4 separate regions of the Homo sapiens genome follow, and regions 1, 3 and 4 are each reported to be linked to region 2. Evidence: microRNA targets listed by miRTarBase, many of them from high-throughput screens and not tested one by one. Region 2 holds a microRNA gene; each other region holds the end of a gene's coding sequence.

The links. The annotated mature microRNA hsa-miR-4485-5p reads ACCGCCUGCCCAGUGA and lies in region 2 at 1,743-1,758, shown strand. An mRNA with a match to its seed (bases 2 to 7 or 8) in the 3' UTR can be bound and repressed. Matches are read on the target gene's strand: a 7mer-m8 pairs with bases 2 to 8, a 7mer-A1 pairs with bases 2 to 7 and ends in A, and an 8mer does both.
Region 1: the mRNA of HCAR1 is a reported target of hsa-miR-4485-5p. Seed matches in the 3' UTR shown: 7mer-A1 at 2,281-2,287.
Region 3: miRTarBase lists CEP76 as a target of hsa-miR-4485-5p. The part of its 3' UTR that is shown has no 7-base or 8-base seed match.
Region 4: the mRNA of CDNF is a reported target of hsa-miR-4485-5p. The part of its 3' UTR that is shown has no 7-base or 8-base seed match.

The regions. Positions count from the first base shown.
Region 1 is chr12:122,726,772-122,729,993 of GRCh38, reverse strand. HCAR1 (hydroxycarboxylic acid receptor 1) reads left to right here. Exons shown (of 1, transcript NM_032554.4): 1 at 1-3,222. The coding sequence ends at 695. Among named protein-coding and RNA genes, the nearest start is that of HCAR1, 2.5 kb to the left of the region's middle. RefSeq lists an enhancer at 1-388.
Region 2 is chr11:10,506,841-10,510,062 of GRCh38, reverse strand. It overlaps MIR4485 (microRNA 4485), which reads left to right and starts at 1,737; the gene lies at 1,737-1,793. AMPD3 (adenosine monophosphate deaminase 3) reads right to left here. Exons shown (of 15, transcript NM_001025389.2): 15 at 2,484-3,222. It also overlaps the pseudogene MTRNR2L8. RefSeq lists a silencer at 647-941.
Region 3 is chr18:12,670,826-12,673,825 of GRCh38, reverse strand. CEP76 (centrosomal protein 76) reads left to right here. Exons shown (of 12, transcript NM_024899.4): 12 at 323-1,201. The coding sequence ends at 461. It also overlaps a transcript of PSMG2 not described here. Among named protein-coding and RNA genes, the nearest start is that of SPIRE1, 14 kb to the right of the region's middle.
Region 4 is chr10:14,817,346-14,820,567 of GRCh38, forward strand. It overlaps CDNF (cerebral dopamine neurotrophic factor), which reads right to left. Exons shown (of 4, transcript NM_001029954.3): 4 at 1,900-2,813. The coding sequence ends at 2,635. Among named protein-coding and RNA genes, the nearest start is that of CDNF, 19 kb to the right of the region's middle.

The DNA.
Region 1 (3,222 bases), not on the chromosome of region 2:
AAGTGGTCCACCCCCACCACGCGGTGAACACTATCTCCACCCGGGTGGCGGCTGGCATCGTCTGCACCCTGTGGGCCCTGGTCATCCTGGGAACAGTGTATCTTTTGCTGGAGAACCATCTCTGCGTGCAAGAGACGGCCGTCTCCTGTGAGAGCTTCATCATGGAGTCGGCCAATGGCTGGCATGACATCATGTTCCAGCTGGAGTTCTTTATGCCCCTCGGCATCATCTTATTTTGCTCCTTCAAGATTGTTTGGAGCCTGAGGCGGAGGCAGCAGCTGGCCAGACAGGCTCGGATGAAGAAGGCGACCCGGTTCATCATGGTGGTGGCAATTGTGTTCATCACATGCTACCTGCCCAGCGTGTCTGCTAGACTCTATTTCCTCTGGACGGTGCCCTCGAGTGCCTGCGATCCCTCTGTCCATGGGGCCCTGCACATAACCCTCAGCTTCACCTACATGAACAGCATGCTGGATCCCCTGGTGTATTATTTTTCAAGCCCCTCCTTTCCCAAATTCTACAACAAGCTCAAAATCTGCAGTCTGAAACCCAAGCAGCCAGGACACTCAAAAACACAAAGGCCGGAAGAGATGCCAATTTCGAACCTCGGTCGCAGGAGTTGCATCAGTGTGGCAAATAGTTTCCAAAGCCAGTCTGATGGGCAATGGGATCCCCACATTGTTGAGTGGCACTGAACAAGCAGACCAACAACACTGAGGAAGATAGAGTGGTGACTTAGAATTAACTCGTGCTAAGGGGTCGGGGGCTTTGAAAATGCCACCCCCCTTTCTTATTGCAAGACGGCTTCTCGCACATGAACTGCATCCTTCTCATTCTGTCGGAAATGAAATTCACACAACTATACCTTTTGGGGAGGTTCCAGTTGATTGAAGTGAGTTGGCTGCATTTTCTTATCTGATCACAATGGCAGGGGACAGAATGTGCATGGAGTGGAGCATGTGTGTGTTGGGAGGGGGGCTAGGAACTGCACAGCCCTTGTGTAATTTTCGTTGTTTGTTTTTGTTTTGAGACAGAGTCTCACTCTGTGTCCCAGGCTGGAGTGCAGTGGCACAGTCTCGGCTCACTGCAACCTCTGCCTCCCGGGTTCAAGCAATTCTCCTGCCTCAGCCTCCCGAGTAGCTGGGATTAGAGGCGCCAGCCAACACACCCGGCTAATTTTTGTATTTTTAGTAGAGACAGGGTTTTGCCATGTTGGCCAGGCTGGTCTCGAGCTCCTGACCTCAGGTGATCCGCCTGCCTTGGCCTCCCAAAGTGGTGGGATCACAGGCGTGAGCCACCGTGCCTGGCCTCCCCTGTGTCATTTTAAATGGCTAAGTAAATGGGTATATGTGTTTGAATGGGGCATGTTCACTCTCTTAGGGGCTATGGGGCAGTTAGCAGCATTTCCTATCCTCTGACCTTAAATCATTCCTTATCTCAGAAAACAGAAACCGGGCTCAGTCAATCAATGCTTTATTTCAGGCCGAATGAGGCTCTTTAGATTGGGATCTATTGATCTATCAATTTTCATCTTTACATTTCTTTGTACATCTGTACATTTTGTCCAAATGTACATCTGTACGTCTGTCATCATTGTGACTTCCTGGTAGCCCAAGAAGAACAACAACAAAACAATCTGCTCTGACCTTCTTCAAATCTTTGTATTTCAAAGAAGGTGCTGAGGGATCTGTTTCCTTGCCCTGGCTTCTCCAGTGGGATGTGCTGAGTCCAATACAATTGCTTTTATAATTGCTTTTGACAACTTGTCATGTGACTGTGAATTGAAATTATTCACTTATTTTCCAAGTATTTACTGAATTCGTATTTGGTGGCAGGCAGTATACTGTGTAATTTTTAGTGGAGGGTCATTAGTCAACTCTTATGTGACAGTAAAGTTTTTTGGGGGGGTGGGGACAGAGAAGTTAAGAGCTTTCATCCTTTCACGGAATACAGTTTCTAGACCGATTCTGTGTGAACATCAGTTTTGTCCTCTTATTGCAAGACTCCCTCATACACATGAGTTTCCCAAATGTGTACCTGGACCCCTCGAAACAGAGGACTCTACGAAATGACAAGCTGCCCCTGCCCTGAATTAGGGGGAAACATTCCAGGCCAACTCTAGCTCCTTTCTCAAGCTACAAAGTGGTGAACATGGTTCTCAACTCCTTAATTTATACTCTCTCAAATGCCCAGGATACTCTACCCACTTAAGAACCTTGCCAACTTCTGGGGGTTGGGCATGGTGGCTCACGCTTGTGATCCCAGCACTTTGGGAGACTGAGGCGGATCACCTGAGGTCAGGAGTTCTAGACCAGCCTGACCAACATGGAGAAACCTCGTCTCTACTAAAAATTCAAAATTAGCCTGGTGTGGTGGCGCATGCCTATAATCCCAGCTATTCGGGAGGCTGAGGCAGGAGAATCACTTGAACCGAGGAGGTGGAGGTTGCGGTGAGGTGACATCGTGCCATTGCACTCCAGACTGGGCCACAGGAGTGAAACGCCGTCTCAAAAAAAAAAAAGAACTTTGCCAACTTCTAGTTCTTTGGCCTCAAAACACCCCTCTAGGCTGTCCCTATTATTCCTTTTTTCAGAGGCACTGTGCAGCCTAGTGATGAAAAGTACGAGCTATAGAGCATTAGAAGCATCGAAGTTTGAATCTCAGCTCAAGCATTTACTAGGCCTGTGATCTTAGGGCAGCTTGTGTTTTTAGACACTGAATCTTGCTCTGTTGCCCAGGCTGGAGTGCAGTGAGTGGCATGATCATAGCTCACTGCAGCCTCAAACTCCTGGGCTCAAGTGTTCCTCCCACCTCAGCCTCCTGAATAGCTGGGAGTACAGGCATAAGCCACCACACTCAGCTAATTTTTAAATTTTTTTTATAGAGACGAGGTCTCACTCACTGTGTTGCCCAAGCTGGTCTCAAACTCCTGGCCTCCAGCAATCCTCCCACCTTGGCCTCCCAAAGTATTGCGATTGCCAGCATGAGCCACTGCTCCCAGCCTGGCATATATATAGATATATATAGAGATATATAGATATCTATCTATCTATATATATATATATTTTTTTTTTTTTTTTTGAGACAGAGTCTTGCTCTATCACCCAGGCTGGAGTACAGTGGCCCAATCTCAGCTCACTGCAAGCTCTGCCTCCTGGGTCCACGCCATTCTCCTGCCTCAGCCTCCAGAGTAGCTGGGACTACGGGCGCCCCACCACCACG
Region 2 (3,222 bases):
GCCACACCTCCACGGGAGACAGCAGTGATAAACCTTTAGCAATAAACCAAAGTTTAACTAAGCCATACTAACCCCAGGGTTGGTCAATTTCGTGCCAGCCACCGCGGTCACACGATTAACCCAAGTCAATAGAAACCGGCATAAAGAGTGTTTTAGATCAATTCCCCTCAATAAAGCTAAAATTCATGTGAGTTGTAAAAAACTCCAGTTGATACAAAATAAACTACGAAAGTGGCTTTAATGCATCTGAACACAGAATAACTAAGACCCAAACTGGGATTAGATACCCCACTATGCTTAGCCCTAAACTTCAACAGTTAAATTAACAAAACTGCTCGCCAGAACACTACGAGCCACAGCTTAAAACTCAAAGGACCTGGCGGTGCTTCATATCCCTCTAGAGGAGCCTGTTCTGTAATCGATAAACCCCGATCAACCTCACCACCTCTTGCTCAGCCTATATACCGCCACCTTCAGCAAACCCTGACGAAGGCCGCAAAGTAAGCGCAAGTACCCACGTAAAGACGTTAGGTCAAGGTGTAGCCCATGAGGTGGCAAGAAATGGGCTACATTTTCTACTTCAGAAAACTACGATAACCCTGATGAAATTTAAGGGTCGAAGGTGGATTTAGCAGTAAACTAAGAGTAGAGTGCTTAGTTGAACAGGGCCCTGAAGCGCGTACACACCGCCCGTCACCCTCCTCAAGTATACTTCAAAGGACACTTAACTAAAACCCCTACGCATTTATATAGAGGAGATAAGTCGTAACATGGTAAGTGTACTGGAAAGTGCACTTGGACGAACCAGAGTGTAGCTTAACACAAAGCACCCAACTTACACTTAGGAGATTTCAACTCAACTTGACCGCTCTGAGCCAAACCTAGCCCCAAACCCATTCCACCTTACTACCGAACAGCTTTAACCAAATCATTTACCCAAATAAAGTATAGGCGATAGAAATTGTAAATCGGCGCAATAGATATAGTACCGCAAGGGAAAGATGAAAAATTGCAACCAAGCATAATACAGCAAGGACTAATCCCTGTACCTTCTGCATAATGAATTAACTAGAAATAACTTTGCAAAGAGAACCAAAGCTAAGACCCCCGAAACCAGACGAGCTACCTAAGAACAGCTAAAAGAGCACACCCGTCTATGTAGCAAAATAGTGGGAAGATTCGTAGGTAGAGGCGACAAACCTACCGAGTCTGGTGATAGCTGGTTGTCCAAGACAGAATCTTAGTTCAACTTTAAATTTACCCACAGAACCCTCCAAATCCCCCTGTAAATTTAACTGTTAGTCCAAAGAGGAACAGCTCTTTGGACACTAGGAAAAAACCTTGTAAAGAGAGTAAAAAATTTAATACCCACAGTAGGCCTAAAAGCAGCCACCAATTAAGAAAGCGTTCAAGCTCGACACCTGTCATCTAAAAAATCCCAAACACATAACTGAACTCCTTGCACCCAATTGGACCAATCTATTACCCTATAGAAGAGCTAATGTTAGTATAAGTAACATGAAAACATTCTCCTCCGCATAAGCCTACATCAGACCAAAATATTAAACTGACAATTAACAGCCCAATATCTATAACCAACCAACAAGCCATTATTACCCCCACTGTTAACCCAACACAGGCATGCCCACAAGGAAAGGTTAAAAAAAGTAAAAGGAACTCGGCAAATCTTACCCCGCCTGTTTACCAAAAACATCACCTCTAGCATTCTCAGTATTAGAGGCACCGCCTGCCCAGTGACATGCGTTTAACGGCCGCGGTACCCTAACTGTGCAAAGGTAGCATAATCACTTGTTCCTTAAATAGGGACTTGTATGAATGGCTCCACGAGGGTTCAGCTGTCTCTTACTTTCAACCAGTGAAATTGACCTGCCCGTGAAGAGGCGGGCATAGTATAACAAGACGAGAAGACCCTATGGAGCTTTAATTCATTAACGCAAACAACACTTAACAAGTCCACAGGCCCTAAACTATCAAACCTGCGTGAAAAATTTCGGTTGGGGCGACCTCGGAGCACAATCCGACCTCCGAGCAACACATGCCGAGACTTCACCAGTCAAAGCGAATTACCACGTTTAATTGATCCAATAACTTGACCAACGGAACAAGTTACCCTAGGGATAACAGCGCAATCCTATTCTAGAGTCCATATCAACAAGGTGTTAGCTGGACAGACTAAAATAATACCCCGGGAAAAGGAAAGGAACATGTATAGCTTTGCTCATGAACTATAACAGGGTAGAAGTTAGAGAAAATAACAAAGGAAGATTTATCTTCTGGGTCTGGTGAGCTTCAGTTTGAAAATTTTGAGTTTTCCTAGTGAATGTCATTCATGTCGGAGTCTTAGTAAAAGATAAATTAGCTATTATTATTGATAGCTTTTCATGGTGCCCAATCTTAAGAGTAAAAATCTTTAACATTTGCTTTAAATATGATTATCTTTAAATAGTTTTAAACTATTGAGCCACAGTCCTAGCTGACTTTATTTAACAATTTAAAAAAAGATACTTGATACAGATAAAATGACAATGAGAAACTACACAATACTTCCTATGTTAGGGCAAATGTATATAAACGGGGGCTTTTCAAAACTAATCCCTAAGATAACAATGGATTTTCATTCAATTTCATAATTAGCTGTAAGATAGCATATATATCTGCCTAGTAAAAAGACTGCATTTATACTTCCATATGCTGAATTGACCAGTGGAGGGGACAGGCATTATAAAGTCACAAGATGAGACAATCTAAAGTCAAATAAGTTCACAGGCAGAAACTGGATTCTTCTTCTAACTATAATGATTCAAAAAGACCTCCTGTAGTCTGAATTTGACCACAGAAATAGATAGGAAGGTCCTTGAGCAGCCTCTTAAGTACTAAGAGCACATGTCCTTAAAAAGTTGCCAAAAGAAATTCACTTAGTTATTCAATATGCATTTATTGAGCACCTACTACATACCAGGCACTAGTAACACAGATAAAGAGTACACTGATAAAGCTTAATTCAGATTAATCTTTAAAAATGCTTTCTACTTGGCCCCTGGGACCATTGTATCTTCTGAAGTCATCATAGTAGATAAGGGAGAAATTTTGCCTTAAAAAAATGCATCCGGTTACAGTGATTAAAAACACACACACACACACACACAACTAACATTTGTGGGGTCTAATGGAATAGTGGGGAAAAGACAGGATTTGGAATAA
Region 3 (3,000 bases), not on the chromosome of region 2:
CACTGCAACCTCTGCCTCCTGGATTCAAGCGATTCTCCTGCCTCAGCCTCCCAAGTAGCTGGGATTACAGACGCCCGCCACCACACGCGGCTAATTTTTGTAATTTTTAGTAGAGGCGGGGTTTCACTATGTTGGCCAAGCTGGTCTTGAACTCCTGACCTCAGGTGATCCACCTGTCTCGGCCTCCCAAAGTGCTGGGATTACAGGCATGAGCCACCACGCCTAGCCTGAAAAAATTATTTTAAATACTGATTTACTTGCAAATAAGGAATTAAAGTGTATGGTCACTTCTTAATTGAATAATTTTTTTTTTCTTAAATAGATCTCCTTTCTGTGAAGAAATAATCTGTTGCCGTGGAGACCAAGTGCGACTGGCAGTTCGTGTCCGAGTATTTACTTACCCTGAATCTGCATGTGCTGTTTGGATCATGTTTGCTTGTAAATATCGCTCGGTATTATAGGGCCAATATTTATATAAGATTTATACCTGTGTTTAATTGGAATTTTACACATTGTACATTACTTAGCTATTTAGAGGTTTGTTATTTTAAAATCACAATCTGGCTTGAATGGCATACTTCAATTTTGTATATACTTGACTGGTAATGTTTAAAAAAAATCATGCATTCCTTTAAAAATTAAGGCTGAAAAACTTGTATAAATCTCCCTGGAATTTAGTATAAATTAAGTGTATATTCTATTTTAATAAATGCTACTTTGTTTACAGTTATCAGTAGTTTAAATATTAATATAAAATGCATTCAGTTTTCTTTACACAAACAGGTAATCAAAGAGATGTTTGTCTAAGGGTTTGAGCCCTAGACAAATCAGTATGATCATTACTTTTCACAGGTTAATGGAATTATTTTATACAGATTAGGAGAAATTAACCTCATGACAGATTTATTTATTGCATTGGTGAAAATAAATGTTAATGAATTACCACTTTTGTGGTTTATTCGTGGTCCTTGGGATATTTGAGACTGTCCAGAAATTTATGGTTGGACCTTGAAGCAAGAGTAGGAAAAAACTAATACCAGAAAAGCATAAATATTAATAACCTCATATGAAAGTACATGAATCATTTAGAAATATTTATCACTGTGATTTGTTGTAAAAATGAATTGGGTATTTTAGAAAAACTTTATTATACCTCTTTGTTATGATACTGATAAATTGTGATCTTGCAGTCGATCACTGATTTTCTGTGGTCAGAGGATTCATTATTAGCCTCTTCATGGATTCTATCTTCTGAAACCCTTTTTTCTTTCATTGTGATAAAAAAATCAGCATATATGTGACTAATCTAAATAAGAGATTGATTGTGTGAGACCACTGAAAACAAGCATATGTGAGTGATTCCATACTGATTTTTGTTTTAAAATTGAGCACGTTTTAAAAATTTTGTAAGGCTCGGCGTAGTGGTTTATGCCTGTAATCCCAGCACTTTGGGAGGCCGAGGTGGGTGGATCACTTGAGGTCAGGAGTTCGTGACCAGCCTGGGCAACATGGTGAAACCCTGTCTCTACTAAAAATACGAAAATTAGGCCGGGTGCGGTGGCTCACACCTGTAATCCCAGCTACTCAGGAGGCTGAGGCAGGAGAATCGCTTGAACCTGGGAGGCAGAGGTTGCAGTGAGGTGAGATCGCGCCACTGCACTCCAGCATGGGAGGCAGAGCGAGACTGCATCTCAGAAAAAAAAAAAAGGGCCAGGCATGGTGGCTCACACCTGTAATGCCAGCACTTTGGGAGGCTGATGTGGGTGGATCACGAGGTCAGGGGTTCAAGACCAGCCTGGCCAACACAGTGAAACCCTGTCTCTACTAAAGATACAAAAATTAGCTGGGCATGGTGGCATGTGCCTGTAGTCTAGCTACTCAGGAGACTGAGGCAGGAGAATCGCTTGAACCTGGGAGGCGGAGGTTGTGATGAGCCAAGATCATGCCACTGTACTCCAGCGTGGGCAACAGAGCAATACTCCATCTCAAAAAAAATGTTTTTTATAAGTTAATTTTAAGTAGCTAGGCATGGTGTCACACACCCATAATCCAAGCTACTCGGGAGTCTGAGGCGGAAGGATCGCTTGAGTCCACAGAGGTGGTGAGCTAAGATCGCGTCACTGCATTCCAGCCTGGGTGACAGAGCAAGACTCTGTCTCAAAAAAAAAAAAAAAAAAAAAAAAGAAAGTGTGAAACCTGATTCCTCAACTTATTTTAAAATTTTATATATTAAAAAAAGTGTTAAGTGAACAAAAGTAAACTTTAAAAAGAGTAGCAATTCAACTTTTTGCAAGAAGCTGCATAATACATGATATGAGGGGTTTGATTGCCCATTTAGCACTTCTGTGCATAGTTCTTTTCATTTTTTTTAAGTTTTTTATTTTTTCAAAGAATCTTTGTTCACTCTGATATGTGTAGTTCTTAATTTAGTTGCTTTATCCATTGGTCTTAAGAAAGTAACTCTATACCAGTTGGCTATCCAAGTTATTAATTCTTTTAATCACTTTAATTCACCCCTACAAATAAAATGATTTCGTTTTTCGAAAATTAAAATCTAAAAGTGTCTTAAAATTTACTTTTTGGGCCAGGTGTGATGGCTCACACCTATAATCCCAGCACTTTTGGAGGCTGCGGCCAGAGGATGGCCCAAGAAGTAGCTCAAGACCAGCCTGGGAGCATAGAGAGACCCCCCCCTATTTCTCTAAAAGAATAAATCTACTTTGTTTTATTTTTATGTATAATAAATATTCAATTTGTTTAAAAAGTCTGAAATATTATGATCCCTCTTCTACAATTTTCATCAAAAATGGTAATCAGATGTTTCTTGTGAGACTGACATGACTGTAGAAAATTAGCAAAATAATAATTGAAGCTTTTTTTAAAGCATAGTGGTTCACACCTATAATTCCAGTACTCTGGGAGGCTGAGGCAGGAGAATCTCTTGGGTTCAGGAGTTTAAGACCAGCCTGGGCAACATAGCAAGAACCCCTCTCTACAAAA
Region 4 (3,222 bases), not on the chromosome of region 2:
TGTGAATTGTGCTGTGATAAACACCATATGTGCAGTTTGAGAAGCACTGATGTAAATTCTCTTTAAAACAAACAAACAAACAAAAAAACAGACTAGATCGGACACAGTGGCTCATGCCTGTAATCCCAGCACTTTGGGAGGATGAGGCAGGTGGATCGCTTGAGGTCAGGAGTTTGAGACCACCCTGGCCAACATAGTGAAACCCGATCTCTACTAAAAATACAAAAATTAGCCAGGTGTGGTGGTGCACGCCTGTAATCCCAGCTACTGGGGAGGCTAAGGCAGGAGAGTCAGTTGTACCTGGGAGTCAAAGGTTGCAGTGAACTGAGATAGCGCCATTGCATACCAGCCTGGGTGACAGAGTGAGACTCTGTCCAAAAAGAAAGAAAAAAAAAAAAAACAGACTAAACACCATGGATACAAATGACTGGCTGAGCACTGTTTCTATTACCTCAATTTGTATCCTGAAGAAAAGACATAGAAATGCGACCCGATTTTGAGGTCAGACACCAAACATAATATTTTCAAACAACACATTTCTTGATAGGTTCAAAATGCAAAAATAAAAACAGATATAAAGGTTATAAGAAGTTTAGAAAAGAAAACTCTGGAGAGGCCGGGCATCGTGGCTCACACCTGTAATCCCAGCACTTTGGGAGGCTGAGGTGGGTGGATCGCTTGAGGCCAGGAGTTCAAGACCAGCCTGGCCAACATGGCAAAACCCCGTCTCTACTAAAAATACAAAAAAATTAGCTGGGCATAGTGGTGGGCGCCTGTAATCCCAGCTACTCGGAAGGGTGAGGCAGAAGAATCACTTGAACACAAGAGGCTGAGTTTGCAGTAAGCTAAGATTGTGCCACTGCATTCCAGCCTGGGCAACAGAGCGAGACTGTCTCAAAGAAACAAAAACAACCAAAAACAAACTTTGGTTTTTTTGAAGATATAATTCAAAATAAAGTAGATGCTTTACAAATGATAATCGAGCTGCCAAAATTCAGAAACAATAATTACTTTGACCATTCATTACACCACAGCTTTGTATTCTCACCTTTCAGTTACATCATATATATATTTCCTTAGGAACCACTAACTCTCTGACATATCAGCTTCCCAGCTGAAAATGCATTTACCTCTGCAGCATTTAGAATTAAAAATTATGTTTTCGATGTATATTTTCAGTCTGAAAATGTCTCCTCCACTCCCTGAAAACAACCCCAGCCAGTAAATGCAATTCTTTGAATAAATAAGGTGGGCTTTTTTGTTTGTTTTTTCATATATTCTGGCAGGGTCTTGCTCTGTTGCCCAGGCTGGAGTGCAGTGGCAGGATCACAGCTCACTACAGACTCCACCTCCTGGGCTCAAGCAGTCCTCCCACCTCAGCCTCCCGAGTAGCTGGGACTACAGGTACACACTATCATGCGCAGCTAATTTTAAAATTTTTGGTGGAGACGGAACCTCACTCTGTTGCTCAGGCTGATCTCTAACTCCTAGACTCAGGCAATCCTCCCGCCTCAGCCTCTTGAAGTGCTGGGATTACAGGTGTGAGCCACTGTGCCTAGCAAACAAGGTGTGTTGAATTAATTAATTTTAGTTAATTTCCAAATAATTTTTCTACAGCAGTTTTTAAAGATATTATGTACATACAATAAAATGCCCAGATCTTAATTATCCTACCAGATGACAATGTTATTAACCCATGTAATCCCCATGTCAATCAAGATATAGGACATTCCCATCACTCCAGAAAGTTCCAAGGAAATGTTTTTTCAGTATTCCCCAGCTGTACCTGCCACACAGAGGCGGACACTTCTACTGTGGGTTTCTTATTCTTATGTGGCCAGAAAATGGAACCAAAGATGATTTTACAACCGAAAGCTGATAAAATAGCATTAACAATGGTAAAGTTCCAAGTTGCCTATGAGTGTTTTTAATATGCTTTAATCTTCCATCAAAAACTTGTCTGATATGTGACTGTAAGGAATGAAAAAGACCTTGAGCTTGGTTCAATTAACAATGTAAATGTTGATATAATTGCCAAACATTGGCTATACTTATACGGTTTCTTGATCTCTCTATTTTCTTTAAGTAGGTTTAAGTGGGTTTTCTTCCAATGGGAAAAACGAGTACTCCTGCCTGACCATTTCTGATACCAAAGAGAGCTACAATATAGAGTGAAAACAGAAAATTCACTTGAAAAAAACTTTTGATTCTGTATTTGGGATTGAAGTTGTGCATTAGATAAGCTGACTGTTGTGTCTTTTGTTTTAGTCCAATATATTTTAAAATTGCATCCAGAGAGGAGTCTCTGAATGCCTTCTTCTTTCTTGGAATCAATTTACTCCATCAATTTGTCAGTAGGTCACTTTTAGGAGACAGGCAATGAAAACTGGCATAGTCATTCCAAGAAACTTATGAGAAAGGAACTTTTAGCTTTTGGTACACTGCAAATGTAAGTTATCAGTAGTATTAGTTTCACTCATAAACCCACGTAACAAAATTCTGAGGAATAATACCAACACAAAAAGCATGAGACCAAATATGATGCATTCCCAGTTATCCTTAATCAACATGTCCATATCCTAGAGAGTCACTTTTCTCTCTAATTACAAGTCACAAATGTGCTGGCATTGGAGATCAGAGCTCTGTTTTGGGGTGTGTCGCTGCATACTTGGGGGCCAGCTCTTGAATGAGATTCACATAGTCAGTTTTTTCTGCACAGGCCCTGCACTCCTCCCCCCAGCTATGCAGGATCTGCTTCAGCTCTGCCACTCTCATCTTCCGCAGGTCAACTGATGCCAAGTCCAGTGTTTTTTCTAAATGGCAAAAAGGAAAAAAGCCAATTACAAAATAAATGGAAAAAAAATCCCTATGAATCACTTCAAAAGGCATATAGTTTGCTTATCTTGGTGCTGACTACCCTATGATCCAAGGCAGGGAAGAATTCCAGTTTCCATGGAAACCAAGACACACCCAAGGAAAATGTGGTACAGCAGCCCTCTCTATCAGTGGGTTCTGCATCTGCAGATTCAACCAACAGCAGATCAAAAATATTCTAAACAAATTAAAGATAACACTACAACAATTAAAAAATACAAACAGGGCTGGGCACGGTGGCTCATGCCTGTAATCTCAGCACTTTGGGAGGCTGAGGCGGGAGGATTGCCTGAGGTCAGGAATTCGAGACCAGCCTGGCCAACATGGTGAAACCACACCTCTACTAAA